Linked DNA regions of Homo sapiens: regions 2, 3, 4, 5, 6 and 7 are each reported to be linked to region 1. The links are microRNA targets in miRTarBase. Many come from high-throughput screens and were not tested one by one. Region 1 holds a microRNA gene; each other region holds the end of a gene's coding sequence.

Region 1 (4,091 bases):
TCCTAGATTATTTAAATCACTTCCTCTGTTAATTGTGCCTGGAATTAACCTGTTAGATTTACTTCCTAGCAGTTAGTTGCTCAGTATGGGTTTCTACACTATTAAAGCAACCTAGCGGTAGTACACAAGGTTTTGTTAGGATAGCTGTGAGATTTTTTTTCTCTAACAATCATCATTATTTCTGTGTCTGCTCCGTTTTTCTTCAGTGTTTTATATGATATTAATAGGGGATGTCTAATTTTGTATCTTTAAAAAAACTTTATCAAATCTGAAGCATTTTTCGTGTTATAGCTTCTCTATAATTTTTCATGGATATTGAATATTTGGTGTTGATATTCTTCACTCAGTTTTGAACATTGAGTTTTCTTCTAATGTTTTGTGCTTATGAAAACCATTTCTGTGTAACGTGTTTAAGTAGCTTATTTATCTGAAAGAACTCTAATAATGAAAAGAAATAAAAAGTTTTTCAGAAGCATGATCATATTCTTCCAGAAGAGTCAGGAACCATGTGTGCCAGGAAAGGGAAACGGGACTGAGCGTCTCGTAGCGAAACGCCTGCTGCAGACTTGACGCGGCTCCCCTCCAGGACGGGCTGGCGGCACACAGACTGTGCACTTACCTCACTGCCGGCCTCATAATAGTAATCAGTGTAAATGGTGTTTCTCTTTCGTTTTGTTATTTCGTGGCGTACGTGTTAAAGTGTGTGAAACTACAAGGCCAGCTAGTCCTTTCATCATTCCCTTTGGTGCAGGTTTTGGAGCAGCACCACAGGGCACACCCCTCGCCACTCTTTATGGGGAATTTTTGCCCAGGCAGGCAAAGGAGTCATCTTGGTCACAAGTCTCCCTTTTCCCCCTCCCCAGCATCTTCGATCCTGTCCCCACCCCTCCAGATGCATCCAGGGGTTGCAAGCCTGCCCCCCAACCAGTCCCCGTGAGGAACAGTGGCCGGGATTGTCCCAGGGCCCCTTCCAGCAGGGGGACCTCCTGACTTGAGAGTCCCCAAAGCCTTCCCAGGGCAGCTAGAATCTGCCTGGAGAGAAGGGATCTTGTCCCCAAGGGTTAGAGGCAGTAAACTAATAGCAAGGACAGCTGCCTTTAGCAATTGTGTGTGTCGCATGGCCGGTCCCTGCATTTTTCTTCAGTTCCAAAGCTGCACTGGCATTTTTATGGTCATCTCTGGAGTCCCTTTGATTCAAGAAATTATACCTCTAGGATGCCAACTAAACGAACAACAAACAGAAACTCCACCTGTTTGCTAGCATAACAGGCGTGAAGGCGGCAGTGTCGCCGGCGTCCTTCCGCGGAAGCCCAGTGTGTGCAGACAGCACGGGGTGGCGCTGCTCTCAGGTGCTCTGGCTGCTTGGGTTCCTGGCATGCTGATTTGTGACTTAAGATTAAAATCACATTGCCAGGGATTACCACGCAACCACGACCTTGGCTGCTCCTCCAGAAACCGTGGTCGCGCTCACTGCAGATTGGAGAACAGGTGCATCTCGTAGCTCTTCTTTGGAAACAAAAGAAGCCACCAGCTGAGGAAGATGCTCACCGGTCACCGTCCCTTTATTTATGCCCAGCGATGACCTCTCTAACAAGGTGCAGAGCTTAGCTGATTGGTGAACAGTGATTGGTTTCCGCTTTGTTCACAGTGGCTAAGTTCTGCACCTGAAGAGAAGGTGAGATGGGGACAGTTAAGTTGGAGCCGCTGGGGCAGAGGCCGTTGCTGACGGGCCGGCCGCTGCTGCACAGTCAGCTTGGGTGCGGAGCGCGATCCTGGAGGATGAGAGACCACTTGACCCCAAGGATGCACTGTCTCCTGCTGGGAATGCTAGCCATGTACTGAGTCCTTAAGTCTGTCCACAGAAACATGCACTAATCGGACATCTGTCTGAAAGGTCAAATGTATTGAAAGTTGCAAAAATTCTTCTTACAAAAAACTAAAACCAAATGCATCACCTAAGTCGTGTGAAATCATGTGGTAGCTCATGGCTGTGAGCGGGGCGGGGCGGGGCTTTCGGAGGAGCTCCTGTTGTTCTGGGCGCGGTGAACTCTCTCTTGTATTTGCAGTCCAGGCCTTCGCGTCTCCTGCGCCAGCAGACGGTGCCCACGGAGCTCCCAGCTGAGGCGCTGCTTCTCCGGGCTGTCGATTGGACCCGCCCTCCGGTGCCTACTGAGCTGATATCAGTTCTCATTTTACACACTGGCTCAGTTCAGCAGGAACAGGAGTCGAGCCCTTGAGCAAAAAGCCTTCGTGTCTGTAAGTGCCCGAGGCTCAGGAGAGCTGGGGCTCCCACTCGCGGCAGACAGGCCCGCGTCCACCCTGCGTCCACCCCGGCCCGGCGGCAGCACGGTGCCAGTCATCTGCATGTGCTCCTGCGGCGTGGGGGTTTGTAGACTTGGAAAACCCTGTTGGCAGAAAGTTAAGAGCTCCCAGGCCTGAAGGCAGGACACAGTGCCAGCAGGGGGCCGTTTGCCCCCATGTGTAAGGGAGGCAGGGCCCAGCTCTCCCACGGCGAGGTGAGCTGAGACTTTCTGAGAACAGTTAGAGTGGGTGCGTGTCTGAAATGGGTACTCCTAGCAGCTATTGTGTACGCAAAGCCTGAGTACAGCCTGCTGGTGTCATGGCCACGTGTGAGCAGGCCAGCGTCACACGGCTCGCTGTGACCCGTCCCGGAGACTGAAATGGGCCTGGGTCTTCTCCTTGTCCTGTGATTAAAGTCCTCTCTTGAAAGTGGAGAGCAAAGGCACACAGAGGTGCGCGCTCACAAGAATTCCTCCCGGTGACTGGGTAATCAATGTTACTGCTGTTTCCTTTGCAGGAAAGACCACAGCAAGATTCTTTCATTCGTCTCCTCCTAGCCTGGGGGACCAGGCTCGAACTGACCCTGGACATCAAAGGAGGGATTATGTGGCTGCTAAAGCCATCGGCCCACAGCCCTGTTCACATCTTGGTGCTTCTCTTTCCCAGAGGCTGGTCCCAGCCAGGCACACACAAAAGGCAGATTCTCGTAAACGCAGCCTCCCTCCCTGGAGGCTGCCTCCTGCCCTGGATCTGGAGTGGAGCTGCTCTGAGATTTTGAGTTCTTCTGCAGAGATGATTAAATATATCCAAGAGACATTGGAAAACCTGCTGAACATTTTACATTGGTCTGCTCAGCACATGGCTGGATGCGGATATTTCTATAATTCCAGAAAGTCACACAGCTCCTCTGTATGAGACCAGTGGGCGCCATTTAAAAGAACAGGATGAGAATCTAAGATATATTATTAATAAATGTAATGGATTTTTTTTTTGTATACGTGTTTGCTTCTAAATTTCATACTGTTTAAAAATAATAAAGGCCAGGTGCGGTGGCTCATGCCTATAATCCCAGCACTTTGGGAGGCCGAGGTGGGTGGATCACGAGGTCAGGAGATCGAGACCATCCTGGCTAACATGGTGAAACCCTGTCTCTACTAAAATACAAAAAATTAGGCGGGCGTGGTGGTGGGCACCTGTAATCCCAGCTACTCGGGAGACTGAGGCAGGAGAATCGCTTGAACCCAGGAGGTGGCAGTTGCAGTGAGCCGAGATTGCGCCACTGCACTCCAGCCTGGGCGACAGAGCAAGACTCCATCTCAAAAAAAAAAAAAAAAAAAAAAAAAAAGCACGTACAAGAAAAAGGTATTCTCCACATTCTGGTGTTCCCCCCCCACCTCACTAGTTTCTTTGTTGTTTTCAAGGTAGTGTTAGTTCTCTTAGAAGCCTGAAAACAAAAGTAATTTGGCTGCGCGTGGGGCACCCTCTTCCGATAAAATGGAGAGCCTGGGCATATTCAGGCATCGTGGGAGTCTGGTGGTATGATTTTTCTTTCTCCACAAGGTTTAGGGTATAGACAGAAGCTGGGCACTGAGCTTCCTTGGCACTGTCCATGGGGCAGAATGTTTGAAAATGCCTGGAGAAGGCTGTAGGAACGGGTGCAGCCATGGGCCCTGTGCCAAGTTGGGCTGAGCATGAGTGCACCTGAACACACCCACAGTCTCCTCTGCCTGGCTCCAGGGGGCAGCACAAATTCTGGCCTGTTTGGGGTGAAGTGGGGCTCTACCATGGAT
Region 2 (4,000 bases), not on the chromosome of region 1:
TCAACAGCCTGGTCAATTTGTACCTGCAGGCCTCCTACACCTACCTCTCTCTGGTGAGTCCCCAGGACGCCCCTGGCCCTAATTTCCTCCAGCTGCGCACCTCCGGCCCTCACTGCACGCGCCAGCCTTCTTTGTGCGGTCGGGTAAACAGAGGGCGGAGTCCCCTTGGCCTCGCCTCCCGCTAACCATTGTTGCCTCCATCTCTTCCCGTAGGGCTTCTATTTCGACCGCGATGATGTGGCTCTGGAAGGCGTGAGCCACTTCTTCCGCGAATTGGCCGAGGAGAAGCGCGAGGGCTACGAGCGTCTCCTGAAGATGCAAAACCAGCGTGGCGGCCGCGCTCTCTTCCAGGACATCAAGGTAACTAGTGTGTGGGTAATGGACTACATCTCCCAGCAGGCCGTGCGCGCGAGGAGCCTTGATTTGAGGGCGTAGGTGTCGCGTGGGCTTCTGGGAGATTGAGTTCGGTCTTGTGAGCCCTCTTAACCGCTGGAAATAGAGGCGCACCTCGTGCAGTGCCCACAACACGCGGCAGTCCACACCGCTGCGTGGTCTTAGGGACGTATAGCTGTAAGAGCTAGGACAGGGTGCGGAGAGTGATAAATACAAGCTGTCACATGTCTTTGTGGCCTGGGCCTCTGACCCCCAACGACTCTTGGGAAATGTAGGTTTAGTTCTATGTGCCGAGTGTGTGTATTCTGAGCCATTTCTCCCTTCTATATAGAAGCCAGCTGAAGATGAGTGGGGTAAAACCCCAGACGCCATGAAAGCTGCCATGGCCCTGGAGAAAAAGCTGAACCAGGCCCTTTTGGATCTTCATGCCCTGGGTTCTGCCCGCACGGACCCCCATGTACGTACCCGCTGCATCCATGGCTACCCAACCATACCCCTCAAGCCTCTGCTCCCTTTGGGCAAATTTCCTTCAGAGCCTCATTTCACACCTGTCACATTTTAATCTGCAACTGGCTGCTCTCTCCCCCTCTTTTCCAGGGATTGGGTTTCTAATTTCTCCCTCTTCTCTCTCAGCTCTGTGACTTCCTGGAGACTCACTTCCTAGATGAGGAAGTGAAGCTTATCAAGAAGATGGGTGACCACCTGACCAACCTCCACAGGCTGGGTGGCCCGGAGGCTGGGCTGGGCGAGTATCTCTTCGAAAGGCTCACTCTCAAGCACGACTAAGAGCCTTCTGAGCCCAGCGACTTCTGAAGGGCCCCTTGCAAAGTAATAGGGCTTCTGCCTAAGCCTCTCCCTCCAGCCAATAGGCAGCTTTCTTAACTATCCTAACAAGCCTTGGACCAAATGGAAATAAAGCTTTTTGATGCAGCTGGTGGTTTTGTGTGTGGTGTGGAAGATGAGGTGGGATCTGTTCTCATAAAGCTTCTGGCTGGGTTGGGATGCCAGTGAAAGAGGAGTTGGCCCCATCTCCCATTTTCTTAACTGTCCTAAGACAAGAGGCTATCTGGGTAGTGTTGAACCTGAGGGTTCTCTGCTTGCCTGGCTGTTAACTGTCCCTCCCAGATGGTAGAGATAGACTCCAGGGAGTTGAATTAAGACCTAGGTTGGTATCTAGAAACAGATGTTAGGTCTCAGCCAGAAACAGCCCTATTTAACGAGTGATTATGGGGCCAGGTGGGTCGCTCACCTGATGTCAGGAGTTCGAGACCAGCCTGACCAACATGAAGAAACCCCGTCTCTACTAAAATACAAAATTAGCTGGGTGTGGTGGCTCATACCTGTAATCCCAGCTAGTCAGGAGGTTGAGGTAGGAGAATCGCTTGAATCTGGGAGGCGGAGGTTGCAGTGAGCTGAGATGGCGTCATTGCACTCCAGCCTGGGCAAAAAGAGTGGAACTCCCATCTCAAACAAAAAACATGTCTGCCTCACGGAAGTTGCGGTGAGCTGAGATGGCGCCACTGTGCTCCAGCTTGGGCAACAGAGTAAGACTCTGTCTCAAAAAAGAAAAAAGCCTCAATTCTGGGAGGCAGTTGGAATTATTAGGCCCTTTATATGGGCACATTGACGCTATTGCTATGCAACTTGCATGGCAACCGGGGGGCTCACTGAGGTCTTTGCTCCAGAGTTTAAGAGATTATGGCCCGAGCTTGAGTGATCCCAATGTGAGGCGCACACTGAGAGGAACTGGCCAGTGGAGCTGAGCAGCCAGGAACACGTGATGCCCAAGCAATGCTGGACAAGGGGTTTAGGGTTCATCACAGAAATGGGATGTGAAACCTTGGGCCGGATTCTCCAAATGGGAACTGAAGAAGCTTAAAACAGGCCTTAAAAAGCACTTGCTGTGTCCAAGCTGCAAAACTGCTGTGTCAGCTCTGACTCTTCCCCTTCTCCTTCCCCTGGGTCTGGGGCAGGGTGGTTCAAGCCTGTAATCCCAGCACTTTGGGAGGCCAAGGCAGGACGATCACTTGAGCCCAGGAGGTTGAGACCAGCCTAAGCAACATAGGGAGACCCCCCAAGTCTCTCTAGAATAAGAGGATGAGCTCAGACCAGGGAAGGGGTGGTACTGGGGGGACGTCACAGCCAGGCCCACCAAGTGTCATGTCTGACCACACCTGGGATTCTTAAATATAGATGTATTTTTTTCATCTCATCTCCGGACACACTCCAATCACACCCCTCCTGCCCTCCCCTCTCAACTGCAAACCAAGCGGTGCAGACACAGCACAGCACACATGAGGGGCCCTCCCTTTCACCAAAGCTGAAGGCAGGGCACAGTTTGGGGATGGAAGAGCCTCGAGGTAAATGTGGGGGTTCTAGAACCCAGTGACCTCAGTTCTGGATCATGGGAAAGGGATCAGTATGCAGTAACGTGGTAAGGTTCCAGATCTAGAAGCCAGGACCTAGAACCTAGTGGTTTCACAGTGGGCAGAGCAGTTGGGAATAAGCCAGGTTAGGGGTGGGGGAAGACAGCCAGCTCTGTCCTCTGCAGGCGGATTCCCTGGAGGGAGATCTCAGATTTAGAAAGGAAGAGTAGGATCTGGTCCAGAAAGGGCCAGAAAGACAGGAAGGCATCTGGACTGAGACTGTGTGTCCTCCAGAAGGAATGAGCAGCCAAGTGGTTCTACCACCTCTTGCTTGGCCAAAGTGTAGGGGATGACAGGAGCCGGATGGAGGGATCCTCCAGGCAGAGCCTGGCTCTGACATGCCAGGGAGGGCTAGAACATCCCTCCCAGAGCCCCACTTCTGGAGTTGAAATGGAGGACCATCTGCTCTCAGTTACCTTCAAACTCTGAAAGTGCCCCGGCTCTGGACTTGATCGCCCCATTCGCAGGGACACCACGTGGTTTCCAGAACTTGGTGGCCCGCATGCCGGGCCTGAGCGTGGCCTGCTCTGTATGCTGTAGAATTTGTAAGCCACACGGGGGGCTCTAAAAGCCCCAGACCTGAAAGCACCATGCCAGGTTTCCTAAAACCTCTGGCACCACCGCAGAGTAATGGCAGATTCCTGGCCTCTGGGAAGCGGTCCAGGCCCAGGGGACTCCAGGGCGCTGATTATGCATATTCTGGAGCCAGAGAAAGGCACGGCTTTGTGGATTCTGGAGTGCAGGAACTTGGAAACTGGAGCTGGAGGGGGTGGAGTGTTTGGCGGACTGGGTGGGGGCACTGCGGGGCCACACCCAGTGCAGATCTGGAGCGGGGGTTTAGGAGCAGCACCCCTCTGCATCCTCTCTCTGGAGCAGAGAGGCAGGACAGGCGGGGAGTGTGGTGGGGCGGACTTAGTTACGCTCCTCGCCCAGGGAGCTGGTGGGGCTGAGGGGCTCGCTCGGGGTGCTGAGTGAGCTGGAGGTGGCCGTGTCCACAGAGTTGCGCTTGCTGCCGCTGGTGGAGGAGGTGCAGGACGCTCGGCGCGGCCACTCTGGTGCACGGATGTTGCGCCGGTCCTTGGCGGCCTCCTCGTCCTCATCGTAGCGCTCGCCGTCTTCCTCCAGCGGCCCGTTCCGGGGATCCTCCTCGTCCTCACTCTGGTGCGGGCTGGAGTGTCGTG
Region 3 (4,091 bases), not on the chromosome of region 1:
TCGCGCGTTGGTGGCACAGGTTTGGGGCGGGAGCCGGGAGGAGGCTCCGGATCAAGTCATCCTCGGAGATAAGGTCGCGGCGACTCCCCGGGACGCGCCGGCCCGGCCTGGGCTGCGGGAGGAACCGCGGCCGGCCCGTCCCCCAAACATTTCCGACGGGCCCCTGCGCCCCGCGAGGCTTCCGAGGGCCAGGCTGGGCGAGGGACACCCAGCCCGGCTCGGGTTCGCGCTCCCGGGCCGCCAGCCCGCCTGTCCGCGAGGTGCCTGCGGCCACGGGGCGCCGAGGCTCCCCGAGGACGGGCTGCGGGCTGCGCGCTGCGCTGGGCCGGGCCGCTGCAGGGCCTCGGCGAGCGAGCGAGCGGAGCGGGGCGGCGGGAGTGCGTGTGTGGGGAGACCGCGCGGGAACGCGAGCCGCCGGCCCGGGAAGGGTGGGTCGGGGAGCGGCGGCTGCCGCAGGAGGAGCGACCCGGGAACCGGAGGCCGGCCGGGCTGGCGGGCAGGAGCCGCGGGGGGGAGGGCGGAGCGCGGAGGGCGGAGACGGGGCCGCGGAAGGGAGGGGGCCGCGGGGCGCGGCCGCGGGGCGGGGCGCTGGGACCTGGGGAAGATAAGAGCGTGCTCGGGGGAGTGAGGGCGGGAGCGAGGGAGGGGCGGGGGACTTAGAGACCAAAGAGGAGACAAAAGGACGGGGTGGGTGGGAGGGGCATAGACGAGCGGGGGTAGGGGAGGGGCGCCGGGGGACGCCTCGCGGGGAGGGGTGTGTGTGTACCGCGGGGGGGCATAGTGTGGGAGGGACTTAGAGAGGGACAAGAAGGGACAACATAAGGGAGCGCGGGGGTACGGAGAAAAGGGGGGCGGGAGTGCTCCACCACGCTGGCCACGAAGGCGAAGGGAGGCCGCGAAGGAGAGGCCGCTGGGACTGGCCACACACAGGGACGGGGGTCCTGGGGATGGACAGTCAGCGAGGGAAGGGGGTCGGAGCTTCCGCGGTCTCGGGAGGGGAAGGGGGAGCCGACACGGGAAAAGGGGGTGGTGCGGGGACCCGAGGGTGGAGGCGGATGGGCGTGTGTGCAGCGCTGAGGGCAGGGATTTAACGCAGCTCTTCGAGATGACCCAAAGACCACGGTGGGGGCTGCACAGACGGGACGGGGCTACCGATGCAGGAGGAGAACTGCCCAGGGGAAAGTGGGACCTACAAGGATTAGAGAAGGGTGGCGGGGGCGGCCTCGGACTCGGCAGGAAGGCGCCACCACCGCCCTCTGCCCGTCCCCAGCGTGCCCCGCCCCGTCCGGGGGCCCTAAGGGCAGCGGCCTGGGCCGTGGGGGAGCCGAGCCAGGGCGGAACCATTCGGAACAGAGAGGGGGGCTTGGGGGGAAGGGAGGAGCCAGGGGTCAGAACCCTGTTGGGGGCGGGGGGGCGCCACACCCTGGGAAAAAGGCTTGGGCACATCCAGAGTGGACCAATCAGCGAGCAAGGCCAGGGTGGCGTCAAGGGGCAGCTTCGGCCAATGGGAAGGGAGAACACTTCGGAGGTTCGGAGGAAGAAAAGAAAAAAAAGCCCCACGAAACAACAATCGAATCTGTTTGGGGGCTTGGAAGGCTGGGAATGGGCGTCGTTTATAGCACGCTCTGGCACCTGCCTTCTCCTTTGAAGGATGGGGTGGCTTGCATCACTCCTGGGTAGTGGGGAGCAAACGGAGCTGAAGAGGGTCCGGGGAAAGTAGACGGGGATTGGCCATTTACCGGGGACACTTGATTGGGCGCCTCAATTTGGGGGGTGGGTGGGACGGAGGTAGCAGCTTTGTGCTCAAAAGAGTGCAAGAGAATGTTGTGGTCTCTTAAACGGAGGCAGGAGTGGGCAGGGCTCCCGCATCCCCTACCACTGGCTACTGACTTAAGTGTCAACCAGCGAGTGGATCGTGGATAATCTCAAGCCAATGGATACTTAAGCATGCCTTTTGGGCACTGAACACTGCTCAACATACTCATTTCCCTTACCTTCCCAGTCCCAGGTTGTTTCTTAAGAGGATGAGCAATAGTAGGGGGCCACAGGGGACCCCACTGGGGAATTCATATAAATTTATCCTTTGGCTTTTCACTTCAGTTTAATGTGTAACACTAGATGCACGCTCTATTCTGAAAATTTTCTCTTATAAAGATAACTGGGACTAGCTACCATTGAGGTCTAAACGTTTTGGAACTGATTTGGAGAGTGGTGTGCTCAGAAGGCCGTATCTGTTGGGGGGATTGCAAAAGAAAACTTGGAGTGGTACAGCTTTTGGCCCAGGGATTCCAAATGTCTTGAAAACCCCTGAAACTGTATGTAAAATGCCATACAAATGTGTGTGTGTGCACATTTTTCTGGAGACGGTTCATAACGTTCAACATATTTTTAGAGGGGCCTGTGACACAAAAATGAACCCACTGTGGTCTAAGAATACTGGGGATAGGACTGAATCTCCAAGGTAGGAGGCAAGGTGCAGTAGTGGTGTCATTTTGGAATCAGAGGGGTTTCCCAAATTCCTTGTTAGGAAACTCAGCTGCAGGGGCTCTTTCCGTATATTTCTTGCCATCCAAAGCCAGGCCAAGTTCCTCAGAGCTGAGAAGCCCATGTGAACTGTCATATAGCAAAGCAATGCTTGAATAAACTACACTTTCAATCAATGGTGAGGAGTGGGCCCTGAGTTAGGAAGGAAAGGCAATAGAGGTTTACTTCTGAAATCACATCTACCTTTATCTACAAAATAAGGGTCAAACCTCCTGGTCTTCTTATGAGAAAATAAGTAGAAGGTTATATATGAGATATTGTAGACAGCAGCCTGTACAAGCTGGGAAGCTCACACATGTGAAAAAAATGGCTGTGGCTAGACTTGTGGGGACAGAACCCAGCTTCGGCACCGTCCTGGTCTTAGGATCAGTCTAGGGCAGAATCCAATTGCAGTTTGTACATCCTCTTTCTAGGTTCAGAGGTTAAAATATACAATATTTTATCATTATTAACCCTGTCTCTTCAAGTTGGCAGTTATTAATGGTGGATCATATCTGATGTGATATATTTAAGGTTACAGACTACAGTTAACTTTCTCCATTTCGATTTAGGACCAACTACATAATCCTTGGTAAGAAAAGGAGGTGGCCCTGACAAGTGCAACTCGAGAAATGCAATGCTGTAGAGTCCAAAGGTGTCTGACTTGAACGAAATGATCCCACTGGGGGACAATGCAACATATACTCCAGGTAAATAGATTAAAAAATGCCTTTATTTTTAAAATGTGGCTTAACTACATGCAATGTACTGAGCCAGTTTTGGAATCCACCCTGTATCAGAGTAAAACTGGACCAAAGGAAGTGAAGTCAGGGCTCCTGGCTGTCACTCCTCCAGCAACTCAATCTACAGAGCATTTCTTCAGCTGTTTTTTGTGACGTGTGGTGATTCGTTTTGGATTCCTCTGTATGACAGACAGGTCCGACCTTGAGGAAGACCGGTAGCCCACGTCTTCTGCTTTTATGGGGTTAATGATATGGCCTGGCTTGGTGACGACCTTGGGAGTAGTCAGCTTTTGGAAAGCCCTCTGGGTGTTCCATGTGGATCCTATGGGGGTCTGGATGGTCCTTTCAAATTGCCAATGGTGGGTAAATGGATATGGAAGCACTCGTACCTGGAAAGGAAGGAGAATGATTTGGTATGAGGCAGGCCTGGGGTGCAGTTGTATACTGTAATGGCAGCTTTCATCAGGTACTGTTTTGGTACAGGCCACGGTTCCACATGATGACTGCAAGTGAAGAGACTGAGAGGTCAAGGCGTCCCATTGCTCCCATCTGCCCTTAGGAATTCAATCTGTTTGATGACATTTGGGAGTAGGGGGGCCTGAGTTGGCTCTGGATCCCCCATCTATTCAACAATTCAGGGTCTGAAAAACCACCCTGACACTGCCCATCTTTGTTTTTCTTTTTTTTGAGACAGAGTCTCACTCTGTGGCCCAGGCTGGAGTGCAGTGGGGTGATCTCTGCTCACTGCAACCTCTGCCTACCAAGTAGCTGGGATTACAAGTGACACTGTCCCTATCTAGCTACAGGAGCTCCAGGGCTGTTGTC
Region 4 (4,091 bases), not on the chromosome of region 1:
AACCCAGGAGGCAGAGGTTGCAGTGAGCTGAGATCATGCCACTGTACTCCAGCCTGGGCAACAAGAGCGAGGCTCCGTCTCAAAAGAAAAAAAAAATTGAGCTGGGTGCCTTGCTTGTTGACAGATCTAGATTTTAAAATCTTTTTAGGGATAGAAAATAAGGAACAGTCAACTATGGCCCACTGCTTATTTTTGCATGGCCTCAAGCTAGTAATGATTTTTATGTCTTGAAAGGTCAGAAGGAAACCAAGCCCTGATACAAAGCAGCCTGTATTAAAGCACTTCTAGGTGAGAGGTGTAAATGTGAAATAATAGGTTTGCATTAGAGCAGTGGTTTGTGACTTTTGGGTGGAAAGTCACAGATCCAAACTCTAGAATTATGAACTCTACCCTAAAAATGCTCATATACAAAACAGCCTGTTCCATTCCCAGGCATCTCAGGCCCCAAAGTAAGAACCTTATTACTGTTAATATTGTTACTGGTCTGCTCAGGCTGCCACAAAGGAACATCACAAGCTGAGTGGCTTAAACAGAAATTTATTTTCTCACAGTTCTGGAGATTGGAAATCCAAAATCCAGGAGACGGCCAGGGTTGGTATCTGGTGAGACATTTCTTCCTGGTGTGTAAACAGATAGCTGCCCTCCCCGTGTCCTCACAGGGCTTTTCCTCCGTGCCGGCAAACTCCTGGTGTGCCTCCCTCTTCTTACCAGGACACTAGTCCTGGTGGGTTAGGGACTCATTCTTATGACCTCATTTAATCCCCTTATAAAGGCTCTGTCTACAGTCACATAGCAGGTTAGGCTTTAACCTGTGAATTTTAGGGGGACAAGCTCAGTCCTTAACAGTGTAAATACTAAATCTGAGTATAATTGAGTACTGTATTTACAGTAAGGATTCCTACCTCTTCAAGTGCTAAGGGACCATGTGTTCCAGGTGGTTTGTTGCTGAATCCTAGGCACAGGTTGAGGATTCCTACCTGTTGAATTAACGAATGTTGGTGAGATCAGACTAATGCACAGGAAAATTCGTGGAGGGATATAAGGTGATAATTTAAATATCACAGATTAAAATATCGTAGCCATTCAGAAAAGAAACTCATACTAATCTAATCAAGGCAAGTTCTGCCCCCTCCCCTTTTTAAACAAGAAGACTACCTATGCTTGGAATTATTTGTATATAAGAGGATATTGTTGCTGGCATTAGGACATTTACAGATTAACAGCCAAAGCCAGAGTTCAAGTGGCTTATACAGAGTATGGGCAGATGCTGGAAAGTTAGGAGGAGAAACTGAGACCTGGAGCCTTAAATGGTAAACTGTGTGTCTAAGTTTGAACTGGAAAACCATTCATAATTTTGGCAGAAAAGAAAGTGGTATATTAGGTAATTTAAAAAGTAACTATTTCAAAGAATTTTTTTTTTTTTTTTTTTTGAGATGGAGTCTCACTCTGTCACCCAGGCTAGAGTGCAGTGGTGCGATCTCGGCTCACTGCAACCTCCACCTCCTGGTTCAAGTGATTCTCCTGCCTCAGCCTCCCATGTAGCTGGGATTACAGGCACGTGCCGGCACACCTGGCTAATTTTGGTATTTTTAGTAGAGATGGAGTTTCGTCATGTTGGCCAGGCTGGTCTCGAACTCCTGACCTAAAGTAATCTGCCCACCTTGGCCTCCCAAAGTGCTGGGATTACAAGTGTGAGCCACTGTGCCTGGCCTATTTCAAAGGATTCTGAGTAATAAAATTCAGGGAAACGTACTACAATCTACAAAATGATTCAGCTAAAATAAAATAGCTCTGATAAAGACAGGCCCATGTGGTTTTTGTTTGGTGGGAGGGGGACAGTTTACATCATAATGCTACCTATTTCTCTGTGTAGAATTTGTATTGTCCTAAGCTGTGAACTAGCTCAAAGCTGAAAACCCTGTAGGACCAATCCTCTAGCAGCAGGGATACCCTCAACTCCATTTTGAAGAAAATCTGATGAAAATTTAAGGGATTTTGTGTCCAAGTTGAGCACTCTCTCCTTCACTGTTTGAATCTGCCTTTCAAAAAGTCATTTGGAATTGAACGGTTTACATCAAAATTACATTCCTAACGGATTCTAGTTTGTCCTTAAAATGAAATTAGGTGTATTTATAGAGAATTCTGGTAACGCATGTAGTATTAGGTGTTTAGGTTTAGCATAATAAAGGCTAATGCAATACAGAGTTCCAATAACAGTATGTTTTAATCTAATAGGGCAATATTCTAAATAACAAATATCAGAAATGTTAAGCAATTCATTTATTTTTTTTGAGACAGGGTCTCATTCTGTCACCCAGGCTGGAGTTGCAGTGGCATGATTTCAGCTCACTGCAACCTCTGCCTCCTGAGTTCAAGTAATTCTCATGCCTCAGCCTCCCAAGTAGCTGGGACTACAAGCATCAAACAGCATGCCCGGCTAATTTTTTGCTATTTTTTGCAGAGATGGGGTTTCGCCATGTTGTCCAGGCTGGTCTTGAACTTCTGGGTTCAAGCAGTCCACCCACCTTGGCCTCCCAAAGTGGTGGGATTACAAGCATGAGCCACCGTGCCTGGCCTGCAATTCTTTTTTTTTTTTTTTTTGAGATGGAGTTTCGCTCTTGTTGCCCAGGCTGGAGTGCAATGGCGCGATCTCAGCTCACCGCAACCTCCGCCTCCCGGGTTCAAGCGATTCTCCTGCCTCAGCCTCCTGAGTAGCTGGGATTACAGGCATGTGCCACCACACTGGGCTAATTTTTTGTATTTTTAGTACAGATGAGGTTTCTCCATGTTGGTCAGGCTGGTCTCAAACTCCCGACCTCAGACGATCCGCCTGCCTCAGCCTCCCAAAGTGCTGGGATTACAGGCACGAGCCACCGCACCCAGGCCCCTGCAATTCATTTTTTACGTTACATAAATGTTTTGTTGCTTCAACAGAAGAACAGATGCCAGGGTGCTCTTTTAAAAAATTTATCTATGTAAACACATCTTAATACTAATTTGAGTTACTACTTTTATTCTTTATTGTCACATTTTCCAAGTTTTGCGCATTCAAACTTGGCAAACATCATGGAGATTTGTACAAACATACATATACATATATACACACATATTTATAGCCCCAGCTTCCTCATTAAACCTTGTGCTCAGGCTCCTGTTAAAAGAGGTAAAATGGTGAGAAGATAAAAATCAGGGAAAACATGAATAAATGCTGACTGACAAATCTTGTTGTTATGAATTTGTAAGGCAGACATTTTAAAGCAAAATCCATTACCTTGCTAAAATTTCCACTAAGCTACAGCTTCAGATATTTACAAGAAAAATAAATATCTTTTAACAGACTTCAATGTGGTTTAACAGCAAGCTAGCTGAGGAGTTGTATTTTGTTGTTATTTCAGGTAACTTTTTATTAAGAAACAGTTAATATTTCAGTGATTACAATTTCAGGTGTTCAAAACTCAAGAAGGGTCATCATTATACTCTGAAGCAGAATTCTTCAGGTACTCATCTTTAAATTACTACCCAAATCTATCACAGTCACATTCAGGCTTTCAATTTTTAAAAACATTTAATGTTTGGTAACTAAAGGGTAGATGCGATTAGTGTACTCTAGGTCGTTTGATTTTATTTTTTTCTGTAGGAGCTTTCCTCTTTTGTGATAATCCAGTCCCAAGTTCCTTATTATTCTGAATAAATGAAATAGCTTCTGGTAGACAGTAATTTTCTACATGAGGAGGTGATTCCTATAAAAGGAAAAATAAGTGATTTTTTAAAATGATTTCAAACATTTACGTGATCTGGTAATAGATTTTTTCTTTAAATCTCAGACCTCTCAGGGATGAATCTGACAAACTTAAAGGAAAACGCATATTCATTCCTAGGTTCCAGCAAATTAAACAAAATGGACCCTGTGGGACAAAGTCTCACCTTTTATCAAAGAAATACGTGTATGGTTCAGGTAGAGTGGGACTAGCTCAGATCTTACAAACATTTCATATCGGTGTTTTTAATCCCCATTTTTGAGATAAAATAAAAAAGGTTAAATGAAAACAACCAATGTCACATAACTAGCAGGTAGCAAAGCCAAATTTCAT
Region 5 (4,091 bases), not on the chromosome of region 1:
CTTCTTGTATCTTCCCATTAGGTGGTCGTTCTCGTTACCGGACCACTTCTTCAGCCAACAATCCCAATCTGATGTATCAGGATGAGTGTGACCGAAGGCTTCGAGGAGTCAAGGATGGTGGCCGGAGAGACTCTGCAAGCTATCGGGATCGTAGTGAAACCGATAGAGCTGGTTATGCTAATGGCAGTGGCTATGGAAGTCCAAATTCTGCCTTTGGAGCACAAGCAGGCCAATACACCTATGGTCAAGGCACCTATGGGGCAGCTGCTTATGGCACCAGTAGCTATACAGCTCAAGAATATGGTGCTGGCACTTATGGAGCTAGTAGCACCACCTCAACTGGGAGAAGTTCACAGAGCTCTAGCCAGCAGTTTAGTGGGATAGGCCGGTCTGGGCAGCAGCCACAGCCACTGATGTCACAACAGTTTGCACAGCCTCCGGGAGCTACCAATATGATAGGTTACATGGGGCAGACTGCCTACCAATACCCTCCTCCTCCTCCCCCTCCTCCTCCTTCACGTAAATGAAACCACTCAAGTGGTAGTGACTCCAGCAGACTTAATTACATTTTAAGGAACACTGTCTTTCCTTTTTTTTTCCTCTTCGCCTTTTCTTTTTTTTTCCTTTTTTCTTTTTTTTTTTTTAATTTTTCCCCCCAACCATCGTGATTTGTCTTTTCATGCAGATTAGTTAGAATTCACTGCCAGGTTTCTTCTGCCCACCAAAATGATCCAGTCTGGAATAACATTTTGTAAAAAAAAAAAAAATATATATATATATATATAGCTGACTGGAAGAGATTAATTTCTTCCCCCAACTTCTTGCATGTTGAAGATATTTGAGCTATTTTTCATCTAAAAGAGTAAGGTATTAGGCCCTTTTGTGGGAGCCCCATGTTTTGTTTTTCTGAGTTGGTGGGGAGGGAGGGAGGGGGAGGGCTGAATTGTTTTGCAGAGGAAGATGGCATCTGTGCTTTAAATTTCTCATTACTGGGTTAGAAAACAAAGAGGGATTGCCCTGCACATTTTCTTTTGTGCTTTTAAATGTTTCTTAAGTTGGAACAGGTTTCCTCGGGCCTGTTTTGACTGATTGCTGGAGTGCATTTGATAGTTAAAAATTACTAATTGGTTTTATTTCCCTTCACACTCTGCCTCCCCACTTCTCCCCCCGTTACTGAAAAATAACCATTTTAGTGTCAGGCTAGAAATTGAATTGCTGAGTTTTGTGTATCCTTTAAATTAAAAACCACAAGTGTTTATTGTAGTGGTTAAACTGTAGCATCTCAGCATCTGGGTGGAAGCTGCCTATATTTCTTCCCAGTTTAACTGGGGACCATCTGTGAAATTAATTTTCCATCCAGACAGCTGCTGTGAGCAAATGAACATAAATGCTCGCTGGAAATTTACTAACCAGTTTTTATATTGACCTGCAGTGTAAAAAGCACATTTAATTATAAACAATATATTCAAAATGGGCAAATTTTATTTTCAAATGCAGTGTAGAGCTAGATTAAAAGCAACTCTTTGCCACCTACTCTGCCCTTTTGGCAAAGTTACCTTGAACAAAGAATCTTAAGGGTTTATTAAGAACTCTTTATTTTCTTCATACCCTGTTCTCTGCAGTGCTTTCTAACAGCTTCTGGGTGCAGATTTTCTTCGGCATCCTTTTGCACTCAGCTTATTACAGGTAGGTAGTGCTTAAGAAAAGTCATGGAGGACTAAAGCCTAAGTCCTTTTCACTTTTCCTCCATCTGAAGGTAGGTGAGTTCATCCTCTTCATGGTAATGCTGTTTTACCAAGACTTTATAGCAGATGGACCCAGAAAGAATTTTCTGCTATTGTGTTCACTACAACAGGATAGGGACATCAGACAGCCCCAGAAACCCCTTCCAGATCTGATATGGGACTATTAATTTTTATGCTGTTAATTGGTATTCATTCACAATGCAGTTGAAGGGGGAAGGCTCCACTGCATTCTTTGGCTAAGGCCTGAATGCTTGCTCATCTGTAAGATCTATACTCGAGGTTTTGTTTTCCTTTTAAAATTCTTTAGGGAGAGAGGGATGGTTTCTGAGGGGTTCTGAAAGTATGATTCAATGTGCAACATACAGGTAGGTCTTCAGCATAAGCTGAAATATATGCATGTAAAAACTTTGACATCTTTTTTTTTAATTTTCCACTTTCTTCTTAACTTTACTTCTCTTTTTGTCCCCCCCCCATCTTACAGAAGTTGAGGCCAAGGGAGAATGGTAGGCACAGAAGAAACATGGCAAACTGCTCTGTGCTTTCAAACCAAAGTGTTCCCCCCAACCCCAAATTTGTCTAAGCACTGGCCAGTCTGTTGTGGGCATTGTTTTCTACAACCAAATTCTGGGTTTTTTTCTTCTTTCTTTAAACATAGAGGTACCACCACAAGGGATGCCCTACTCTCTCGCAGCTCTTGAAAGCATCTGTTTGAGGGAAAGGTCTCTGGGCAAGCAAGTGGTTATTTGGATTGCTTGCTTCCCTTTTTCCACCTGGGACATTGTAATCATAAAATAACAGTAAATTCCAAACCTCAAAAACTATTATGGCCTGAGCACAGCTGAAATCTAGCAGAGTTTAACTCTTCTGCCTCCATGTCTGTCACTTATAATTCAGGTTCTGCTGTTGGCTTCAGAACATGAGCAGAAGAATCGTTTTATGCTAGTTATTGCATTCATGGTTGAAACTCAACTTAGGGAAAGGGTTCCAATGTATTAAGCAATGGGCTGCTTCTCCCCAATCCTCCCTAACAATTCGTTGTGTGGACTTCTCATCTAAAAGGTTAGTGGCTTTTGCTTGGGATCAGTGCTCTCTATTGATGTTCTTGCTGGTCTCCAGACACATTCCTGTTGCATTAAGACTTGAAAGACTTGTAGATGTGTGATGTTCAGGCACAGGATGCTGAAAGCTATGTTACTATTCTTAGTTTGTAAATTGTCCTTTTGATACCATCATCTTGTTTTCTTTTTGTAGGTATAAATAAAAACACTGTTGACAATAAGGTGTGAGCTTTTATTGCTTAATTCTCTGAATAATTCAACGTAGACGTCTTAAAACAGTTTTTGTTTCAAGACAAAGATGGGGGATATTGGATTGACTGATTACTTTCGCACCTAAAACTGAAAGGAAAAAACTTAATACAAGAATTGGAATTGAAAACCCTAGCAGGATACCTAGTAGGTAAGGGTTTGGATATATCTGTATCTGCTCATAAGTAAAACAGTGATTGTGCAAATGGTACTCGCCTAAGTACCATTAGGTTATTGGTATTAAGGTACTAAGTACAAGGCAGGTATCAGCCACTGGTTTGAAAAAATTCAAACCAGTAAAAGATGAGTCACAAAACTCCTCCAGCCAAACCTGGTAAATTTGGTTTGCTTCTGGCCTGAAGGCAGTGTGAAAGTGAAATAAGTTTCACACTTAAAACTAGCTGACACCTTTATATCTTGACCACCTAAATTTGGTCATCTACCTGGAAAGTGGAAATTCACAAGAACGTACCCTAATATTTTAACTGGTCTTTAGTTGGGACATTCTAAGAGGAGGGACATTGTTCCAGATTGGGGTTGACTTGCTCATCATGAGTCTTGCCCTCAGGCCTTGGAGAACAATCATTTATGTTTTTTATTTCGTCGGTAAGACACCTTAAGGTTTCTTGTTGCAGTGAGGCACCATCTTTGTGCAGGTGGCCGAGGTTTTTTATGACCTTACAATGGGTCTTTAAGGGCGATCTATTGATGAGAAGGTCTTCTGGGTGGGATGATCAGGTTTTGCTGAAATCCACACTAAACACTTTTCTGGTTTTAACATTTGATCCCAAATTATGGATAAGTTGCCAAAGAGAACATTCAAAATAGTTTCCTTCATGTGCTTGTTAAGGCGTAGACTGTCTCTGAAGGTCCTCAGATTGGCATTGGAAGACTTAACTTCTTTCCCTTAAGGACTGGAAGAAAATGGAGATGAAATAAGAATTTACCATCTGATGAAAGGACTGCTTTATAACTTGATGCATAATCTTGGTATCATCTCTTAATGGCCGGCTCACAGTATATGTTCGATTGTTAAAGC
Region 6 (4,000 bases), not on the chromosome of region 1:
CCCTTTTTCAAGATCTTACTCAAGTTTCTACTCCTCTCTTGCTTTCCCTTATACCATTTTGGAAAGTGTTGGTCACAACCTCCTTTCTACTATTCTACCTTGTACATATTTATATAATGCTATTTACCACACTGTGCTGCAACTTTTCGGTTTTATATTTGACTAAGTTGCTTGTCATTTCCCTGATTTGATGAATTTTGTTCTCATTTTTACAAATCTCAATTTTACAAATTTTGTTCTTGTTGAGTTCCTAGGGCCTATCTCTAAGCACACTTTTGATTATTGAATGGATATTTCATTTCCCCTTAAAATGAAAGGATTGTGTTAATTGTATTTTCATAACTAAAACAAAATGGATGACTGGTATGCATGTCATTGGGGACACCCATTGCTTTGTTCATTGTAAAAGCAGGTGGACAGGACATGCTGTAGGTGATAACTGAAGGATGGCTTAGAACGGACTTGCAAATAGACTCAAGAAACATTCAGCCTTGCACTTTTTCTTTTGCAATTACTATTAGCTTTCCCTGCCCTTAAATGTTGTCACAGAGGTTTCAGAGGCCAGTTAATTCTCCTTCCTCTTATGTGTTCTGAACAAGAATAAGAGAGGAATTTAAACATCAGCAGATTCAAATTAAGTAATCAGTTTTATTTTGAGTAATATGAATAGCAGAATGCAACTTGGACTTCACGACAACATCAGTCTTCCTACTTTACTTCTGCCTTGGATTTGGCTGAGTTGCCCAGGCTTAGGAAACTGCAGGCAACAGGAGATGAGTTGGAGGTGGTAGGCTCATTGCATGGGAAAAAAAGCCTTGGGCAGCCTGGAGAGAGAAGGTGAGGTGGCCAAATATGGGCAACAATCCTTCCCCACATGGTCACAAAATGAATGGAAACAGATGGCATACTCTTCAGATCTCACAGGTCCAAAGGAGGGTCTAGGGAGGAGCTGGAGAATGCTGCCTTTCATAGTCCTGAAAAGGTTTCTTTCTATTAAATGCACCAAAGCTGGAGTGCCAGAAGAGAGAGGGGCTGGATCTCCCCAACCAAGGTCACAGGACAGATACATTTCTTAAACCCAGTGTCTCAGGACCTCAGAGATCCTGGTCCAGAAAGTTCCCTTTTTCATGGATTGGATCTTGTAACCCATAAGAAAAAAATAATATGACTTTGTTTGCTGCCTTTGACCTAACACTTACTGTTTTATCATGATGATGGGTAGATTAATAACTGCTCCTGATAGCAAGTACATGTTAATAACATCGAAGCTTAATGATCAAGGAATTAACAGCTTGACACAGGTGTGAGTGCTCTGATGGGAAGAAGGAACCCCTGTGAATGCAAAGGACTTTTTTCCTGCAATGCATGCAGTGCTCTGGACCATATCATCTCAACCCAGGTCAATCTGTAATTGCACATCCTGATGACGGTAAAGAGAAATGACCTGGATGCTTCCACAGCTTGTGCTGTGAGGCCAGAGTGGCTGGTGCTGTGCCACGCTTAATACTGCATGCTTGGACCCTTCTGACATCCCTCCCAGTGCTGGGAGTTTACAATCCTGATAATGCCTCCAGTGCAAATGACTTAAGAAACATCCTTCGCTGGGCTCTGACCTATAATTTATTAACCCACGGTTAGATTTATTTAGTTCTGGCTTATTTCAGGTCTGTGGGTATGCATTCTTTTCATTGCTAAATGTGCTCCCTCAAAGTTGTGATGTCTTTAATTAGACCCATTCTATAAATTATATCATGGTAAGAAAGAAAAAAGAGAAAGTCATGGTCAAGAGACAGCAATGTAAAAGGAATAGATATTTTCATACAGTGGGTCTGATTTTCTCAGTGAGTCGAGATGGTCTTCTTAGAAGTAACATTCTCCACTGATGCTCAGAGCCTATGGTGACCTAGCAATGGTGGAGGGTTTCCCACAGCAGTGTTTTTCAAACCAATGTACATAAACATCACCCAATTCAGCAGGTCTAGGGTGGAGCTGAAGAGCTGGCATCTCCAACAAGCTCCCAGGTGATGCTGATGACTGAGTAGCAAGAACCTAAGTTACTAAATCAAAACACCAGCTCCCCAAATCATCACAATCCATTTTATTCCACAGCATGTTTAAGGGAATGTTATTTTCAGGAAGATGTTTGGGATTAAAATAATTAAAAAAAAACTGGAAATTCACACATTTATGTATCTCTTCTTTTCATTAAATATATATCTGTTTGGCAAAAAATGTTAGACTCTTTTGTACAAAAACAAAGCAAAAAAAAAAAAAAAAACTAACCCAAAACTCTTGCAAATTGTAAATACCAGTAATAATTACAATGATGTAAACTTGGATGTCTGACAGCTTGACCATCCTGTGGAACTTGAGTTGCAGCAGGACCTCCCAGGAGAAGGTAACACCAAACGCTTGGATAGCAACAGTCCGTCCTAGAGGCATTTAGGTTTAGTCTATTAGAGATGGAGCGAGACTACTGATTTCACCATTTGTGCTTTCAGCTAAGAGGCTGGGAGCGTGGGTGGAAATGAAGAAGGCAGTTCTGGCCTGGGGCAGGGAGAGGAAACCCCAGACTAGCTGGTGAGGAGGGAAGATTTGTCACGATCACAGTGCAGACGCAAAGTGGGCATGGGACCTGTGGACTGTTTGGGAAATTTATGCTAGGGAGGATCACGAGGAGGCTGCGGCTGCTGCTCTTGGGACCAAAGAGGAACAGAGCAAGGCAAAAGCAGGGAGAGAGGTGGGAGGAGATTTGAGCGCAGATCTTAATTCAAGTGTAACTGGTGGTGCGAGATGATTCTAGAGAGAGGGGAAAGGAGGATGTGGGGTTTGGTCTTCTCATCAAATAGCTAGGCCATTTCCTCCAGACAGGGGCCTTGGGGCACTGCCCTTGGTCTGGTGGGCAAGTTTTTGGGCAGTCTGGGGCTGCTGGCTTTCCTGCCCAAGGGAAGGAAGGGCATGCCTGCAGAGGGCTAGGATGGAAGGGCCCTTTGGCCTTCTTACTGGCAGTGGGCTTTGCTCTTGTCCCACCAGTGGACTGCAGCCATGGGAAGTGACCTGAAGCAGTGGAGCCGAGGAACAGAATCAGGGCGGTGAGCAAGATGCCAGCTAGGGGCTGAAAGTTGCCAGGGCTAGAGGTGATGCTGAAGGGAATGTGGACCCACAGCTTCCCTTTACCAAAGGACGGTTCCAAGGCGTGGGTGTGTTTTCATTCCTCTCTCCTGTTAGCTAGGTGTTCCAGTTTTGGAAGGGGCATGTCTGGGCCCGGCCACTTCAGTTACAGTCATAGACGAAGTCATAGTTGCTGGGCTCCTTGGGAATCGGCGGAGGTGCGTCAGGGATCTGGATGTTTTCCAGGTCCAGGAGGCGGAGCTTGATTTCCATGCTGAGCAGGGTGTCCAGGTCATTCCGCGTCAGGTCGCTCATCATGTCCTTCCCGAGTAGCGCATTCAGTCCATCCGTCCAGATACAGTACTGGCAGGAAGGGAGGCAACAGCGATCATTACTGGTGGCAATTACAGAAGTATTAATAGTAAAAATAGCTAACAGTGAATACTCATCCCTCAGTAGGCTGTGCGCTAAGGGCTCTGCCTACTTCGTCATTTCATATTTGGCGACATCTCAATATAAAGTCGATACTTCTGTTATCTCTGTTTTATAGGTGAAGGAACTGAGGTACAGAGAAGTGACTCAGTATTATGTAGACCGGGTGGGATTTGAACCCAGGCAATCTGACTCCAGTGCCTGTGCTCTTCTTTGCAAAGAATGCTTCTCTGTAACAGCTGAGGATTGGAGTTCTCCATGACTTGCAATGTAACACCTAGGTGGGAGTCTATGACTTTTAGGTACTGGTGGAATCTACCGAACAGCCCTGGACTCAACATCAGGTGAAGCAGGTTTCTTTGCTGACTCCAGTCATGGCTCCTAGTCTAGTAGCTCATCTCGGCCTGTCCTGTCTGATCCTAGCATTCACAATGACAGCCCTGTCCCACCCTGGAGC
Region 7 (4,091 bases), not on the chromosome of region 1:
TCAAACTCCTCGGCTCAAGCGATCCTCCCATCTCAGGCTCCCAAAGTACTGGGATTATAGGCATGATCCACCATGCATGGCCTAAGTACCACTCTTCAGTGGTGAAACTGAGATATTCTATATTCCTGATGGGCTTTTCTAAAAAAAAAATTGAATTTATACTAAAACATTATTATGATTTAATTTTTATGTGTAAAGACACTACCTATATGCTTTATTCACATTTTAGTGAACTACATTGTTTTATCTTTCTGAAAATCTTTTTGTTTGAGACAAGGTCTCGCTCTGTCACCCAGACTGTAGTGTAGTGGTGTGACCTCGGTTCAGTGCAACCTCTGCCTTCTGGGCTCAGGTGATCCTCCCACCTCAGCCTCTTGAGTGGCTGGGACCACAGGCATGTGCCACCACACCAGGCTAATTTCTGTATTTTTTTTGGTAGAGACAAGGTTTTGCCACGTTGGCCAGGCTGGTCTTGAACTCCTGGGCTCAAGTGCTACACCCGCCTCGGTCTCCCAAAGTGTTGGGATTACAGGCGTGAGCCACCGTGCCCAGCCACCTGGCCTCTTTCTATAAATCTTAAGGAGGTGTTATGAAAGAGGAGAATGAGAAAATTCATTAATTTGACACCTTTTCAGGTTTAACAGTCGTTTGTTTGTCTGTGTTGACTCTTGCCGTTAGACCTGGTTATCACTGCTGCCTTTTCTGCGTTTCTTCCTTCCTTGTAGATCTGGGACATGACACCTGTGGTGGGCTGCAGTCTGGCGACTGGGTTTTCTCCGCACTGATCTGAGAGCTGGGCGGCGTCCACACCTAAGAACAGCAGCTCCACCAAATGAAGTCCCTCTCACGCAGCTCCACAGCGCTGTCTCGTGAATGGACAGTAGCCACTTACAAACAAATCAACATTTTTAAAAAGAAAATGTAAAGGTGTGTTTTGGGGCATTTGTGGAACTTACCCATGGGGACTAATATGGAAAAGGTCTGTCCATAGTGGTTCCCTGAAGACTGGAATTACTTCAGCAAAACTTCCCCATGAACAGCTAATGTGTAGTGAAAGAATGAGCTAGCAAATGAGTTTTAGCGGGGACAAAAAATCAAACAAAAAAGTGAATGCTTAGAACCTTCTCAAAGCAGTCACAAGTACAGACACTTCACTTAGCCTAGGGGGCCTTCCAGGGTTCTTGTGGCTGTTGTCAGAGCAGGAGCTGGGGGAGGGAAGACTTGTTCTCTCTTTCTTGAGGGGTGGCATTAGGAACTTACGAAACCAGAGACCTTTCCCTATGACTTGGCAGTATGTGAATATCCTCTACACTTAGTTATTGATAAACTTCTTAAAGAGATCTGTTATTTTCAGGTAGTGCCATAATCTGCACTTAGCATTGGCTTGCTTCAGTTGTTTCTCTTCCCAGCCAGTATGCCACAGGTGAACTTTCGGGGTTGTCATTAAGTAAGTTGTGAAATTTCTGTAATAACAAAGGCAGTCCGCATTCTTCCCTTTCCCCCAAATTCCTAGGGCAAAACTTTTTTATGGTGCTGTTAACATGGGAGTCACACAAGCCGCCTGACTTTTTCTCATTGCCATTAGTAATGACTGATGGAAAACCCAGCCACCACTGTGATGCGAAATGATCAGTCTGTTGCCTGAAACAGCCCAGTCCTCTTAACTGAAACAGCATTCTACTTCTTGTTCCAAGATGAGCCTCTGCAATATTCTGGCAATTTAATATACCCCCTACAAAAGCACTCCACAGCTTTTACACTATTTTGACTTTGAGTTATAACTAGTATTATTCATGTTTTCATAAAAAGAAGTTAGTGACCCAGAGCTATAATCATCCATCAAGTCTTCCACAATAATTCCCAACTCATAAATTGCTTTCCTAACAACTAGCAAAAGCTATTGTTCATAATGGCATTTCTAAAGCTTTTGGGCACTGTGTACCAGGATGAGGAAGAGAAGAAATGAGGAGCCTGTCTTTTAATATTCCAGTATTTGTGTGTTTGATTTTTTTTGACAACAGTACATATATCTATTTCTCTAGGGATATGGAAGTAAGTGGAGAAGGGCCTACCTTTTTAAAGGACAAATATAAAAATAGCAACAGTATCTTTGCTAATCTTACTAATAGATATTGATTAAAAAAAAAAAACCTCAGTACTGCATCACTGTGTTGGGATCATACCAGGACAATAGGGTCATTCCATATGATAAAACTAAAGGACTAAATTTGTTTTATAATGATGTCTTAGAGGGACTGAAAGGTTTAAGGAGGCGATCAAACTAAAATGTCTTAATGGCTGTGTGACACACGTAAGGAAAGGAAAGGGGGTCACGCACATCATGTACTGGAATGATCTGCATTAAACATAGACTTGTCTTCAGAAATAAGACTGAAGGGTTTTGTTGTTCCTTAGAGTTTTCGTGTTACATCACCTAAAGAGATTTCTTTTAAAAACTTTCTAGACTCTTTGCAAAATGTATATTACTAACATAGTTTGGAAGAAAAATTGAGTAGTGGTAAGTTTTGTTCAAGCACAATGTTGAATGTTAAGCTTCCTGTATTAATTTTAGTTCAGTTAATGGTTCAGCCCATACAAAGGTGCTATCCTAGGGATTTTATGAATTCCTGAAAGGAAAATAGAATATGATCAATTCCTTGCCCTGTGGAAGAGTGCAGAACTGTGGTTTTGTTTTCCTTTGACTTCTGTAAAATGTGACCGTTTGACATCTGTGGTAGATTGAACGGAATATCACAGCTGCTGAGTTTACTCCATAGCTTTCAAACCTTTTTTATTTTAAGAAATTCTTGAAAAACCCTATGTTCCATGGGAACATAAAGTTATTATAGTGCCTCCTAAGGGGTTAATATAAATCAAGGAGGAAGTTTATATTTAAGGAAGAATTGGAGTGACGTATCTTAGAAAAGGAAAGGCTGATGTTTCCATATAGCTTGCTCTCCACCAGGCCTATCATTTTTCTTTTTAGAGACAAACGTGACAGGCTAGTCTTGTCTCTCTCATATGCTAGGTAGCAAATGGGGTGATATTTTTATAGAAGTGGGCAAAAATTATTTTCTCAATTTTACTGAGTAGGCACAGAAGAAAAGTACAGATAGGCTGATGGTTATTGCCTTATTTTGACTGCATTTCTCTTAAATGGATCATTTAAATTAGTTCTTCAAGTAACAGTTTACTGGTTGTTCCATTCCTGAATATGCAGGCTAATTTGTACAGATAGGGATTAAGGAATACAGACTATTAGAGAAGATCCTTATATTTACATCTAGTATATATGTGGTAAGGAAATGCCGATTCTTCATTATAAACAAGTTTTAAAATTGTTCTTTCTTAGTTCAAATGATAGCAATACCCCTATAGCATTAGGTAGAAACAAATTATTCATTACATCGTAAATCTCTTTACTATGTCCTAGCTCTGTCCTGCTACCTAAAGGATATAAAGAAATACTATTGCTCTAGAATGTATTACTTTGTTCTCCCATGAAAGAATTCAGTTTGTTAGTACCTATATTTTTAAACTGGTGAAACTGACCCAAATATGTAATAAATACCATAGTAGCTCAGACCCAAGGAGATATTTTTCTAAAATCAGTTTTCGTTAAAGTACTTCTACTTCCGTTATTGGATATGGTATCTCCTAAAGTGTAAAAAAAATCTGTTACTATATAGTGATAAACCATCTGCTCATCGTAAGTGTAAGGCTTAACAAATAAGTAATACATGCTATATTTATTCAAGTGTCTATTGCTTAATTGTTAATTGTGAGCAGATTTATTGAATGCCTATTCTATTTTCTGCAGTTTACAATACAATAACTCTTTGAGTAAGTTGAAGTTTAATTGTGCAACAAATTTGTATTAGAGTACAATTTAAAGTGTTTTTCTCTATAGCCTTTTTTGACTGGGGAAGCAAGGGGTAATGTTAATTAGTACACTTTGTTCTTGTACTAGCTATGTTTCTATAAGATATGGTGCCCTGTGTATCCCAGAGATGCTAGAAAACTGTTCTTTGCTCCTATTTGTGGGTTCTGTTTTTGTGGGTTTTTTTTTTTGAGAAAATGTACACAATAAA

Evidence for each region. The annotated mature microRNA hsa-miR-27b-3p reads UUCACAGUGGCUAAGUUCUGC and lies in region 1 at 1,642-1,662, shown strand. An mRNA with a match to its seed (bases 2 to 7 or 8) in the 3' UTR can be bound and repressed. Matches are read on the target gene's strand: a 7mer-m8 pairs with bases 2 to 8, a 7mer-A1 pairs with bases 2 to 7 and ends in A, and an 8mer does both.
Region 2: the mRNA of GYS1 is a reported target of hsa-miR-27b-3p. Seed matches in the 3' UTR shown: 8mer at 2,871-2,878.
Region 3: the mRNA of UTP14A is a reported target of hsa-miR-27b-3p. The part of its 3' UTR that is shown has no 7-base or 8-base seed match.
Region 4: the mRNA of TOPBP1 is a reported target of hsa-miR-27b-3p. Seed matches in the 3' UTR shown: 7mer-m8 at 3,529-3,535.
Region 5: miRTarBase lists DDX17 as a target of hsa-miR-27b-3p. Seed matches in the 3' UTR shown: 7mer-A1 at 1,337-1,343.
Region 6: miRTarBase lists ELMO1 as a target of hsa-miR-27b-3p. Seed matches in the 3' UTR shown: 7mer-m8 at 2,605-2,611.
Region 7: the mRNA of WDFY1 is a reported target of hsa-miR-27b-3p. Seed matches in the 3' UTR shown: 7mer-m8 at 1,613-1,619.

What each region holds. Positions count from the first base shown.
Region 1 is chr9:95,083,864-95,087,954 of GRCh38, forward strand. It overlaps MIR27B (microRNA 27b), which reads left to right and starts at 1,582; the gene lies at 1,582-1,678. It overlaps AOPEP (aminopeptidase O (putative)), which reads left to right. Exons shown (of 17, transcript NM_001193329.3): 17 at 2,819-3,296. It overlaps MIR23B (microRNA 23b), which reads left to right and starts at 1,345; the gene lies at 1,345-1,441. MIR3074 (microRNA 3074) reads right to left here and starts at 2,231; the gene lies at 2,151-2,231. It also overlaps MIR24-1.
Region 2 is chr19:48,965,557-48,969,556 of GRCh38, forward strand. It overlaps GYS1 (glycogen synthase 1), which reads right to left. Exons shown (of 16, transcript NM_002103.5): 16 at 2,574-4,000. The coding sequence ends at 3,732. FTL (ferritin light chain) reads left to right here. Exons shown (of 4, transcript NM_000146.4): 1 at 1-53; 2 at 214-360; 3 at 725-850; 4 at 1,027-1,323. The coding sequence ends at 1,179. Among named protein-coding and RNA genes, the nearest start is that of FTL, 2.2 kb to the left of the region's middle. RefSeq lists enhancers at 1-42, 2,773-3,002.
Region 3 is chrX:129,928,900-129,932,990 of GRCh38, reverse strand. UTP14A (UTP14A small subunit processome component) reads right to left here. Exons shown (of 15, transcript NM_006649.4): 15 at 3,239-3,655. The coding sequence ends at 3,383. It overlaps LOC105373335 (a long non-coding RNA gene), which reads left to right. Exons shown (of 3, transcript NR_188631.1): 2 at 3,096-3,233. Among named protein-coding and RNA genes, the nearest start is that of UTP14A, 25 kb to the right of the region's middle. RefSeq lists silencers at 159-628, 659-818, 829-908, 989-1,078, 1,149-1,388 and an enhancer at 1,629-1,748.
Region 4 is chr3:133,597,654-133,601,744 of GRCh38, forward strand. It overlaps TOPBP1 (DNA topoisomerase II binding protein 1), which reads right to left. Exons shown (of 28, transcript NM_007027.4): 28 at 2,585-3,740. The coding sequence ends at 3,597. LOC124909437 (a long non-coding RNA gene) reads right to left here and starts at 1,424. Exons shown (of 2, transcript XR_007096110.1): 1 at 903-1,424; 2 at 522-809.
Region 5 is chr22:38,482,371-38,486,461 of GRCh38, reverse strand. It overlaps DDX17 (DEAD-box helicase 17), which reads left to right. Exons shown (of 13, transcript NM_006386.5): 13 at 22-3,024. The coding sequence ends at 527. It overlaps KDELR3 (KDEL endoplasmic reticulum protein retention receptor 3), which reads right to left. Exons shown (of 5, transcript NM_006855.4): 5 at 3,015-3,966. The coding sequence ends at 3,926. Among named protein-coding and RNA genes, the nearest start is that of KDELR3, 16 kb to the right of the region's middle.
Region 6 is chr7:36,852,278-36,856,277 of GRCh38, forward strand. ELMO1 (engulfment and cell motility 1) reads right to left here. Exons shown (of 22, transcript NM_014800.11): 22 at 629-3,474. The coding sequence ends at 3,274. Among named protein-coding and RNA genes, the nearest start is that of MIR1200, 65 kb to the right of the region's middle. RefSeq lists an enhancer at 2,411-2,912.
Region 7 is chr2:223,875,365-223,879,455 of GRCh38, reverse strand. WDFY1 (WD repeat and FYVE domain containing 1) reads left to right here. Exons shown (of 12, transcript NM_020830.5): 12 at 726-4,091. The coding sequence ends at 785. Among named protein-coding and RNA genes, the nearest start is that of AP1S3, 40 kb to the right of the region's middle.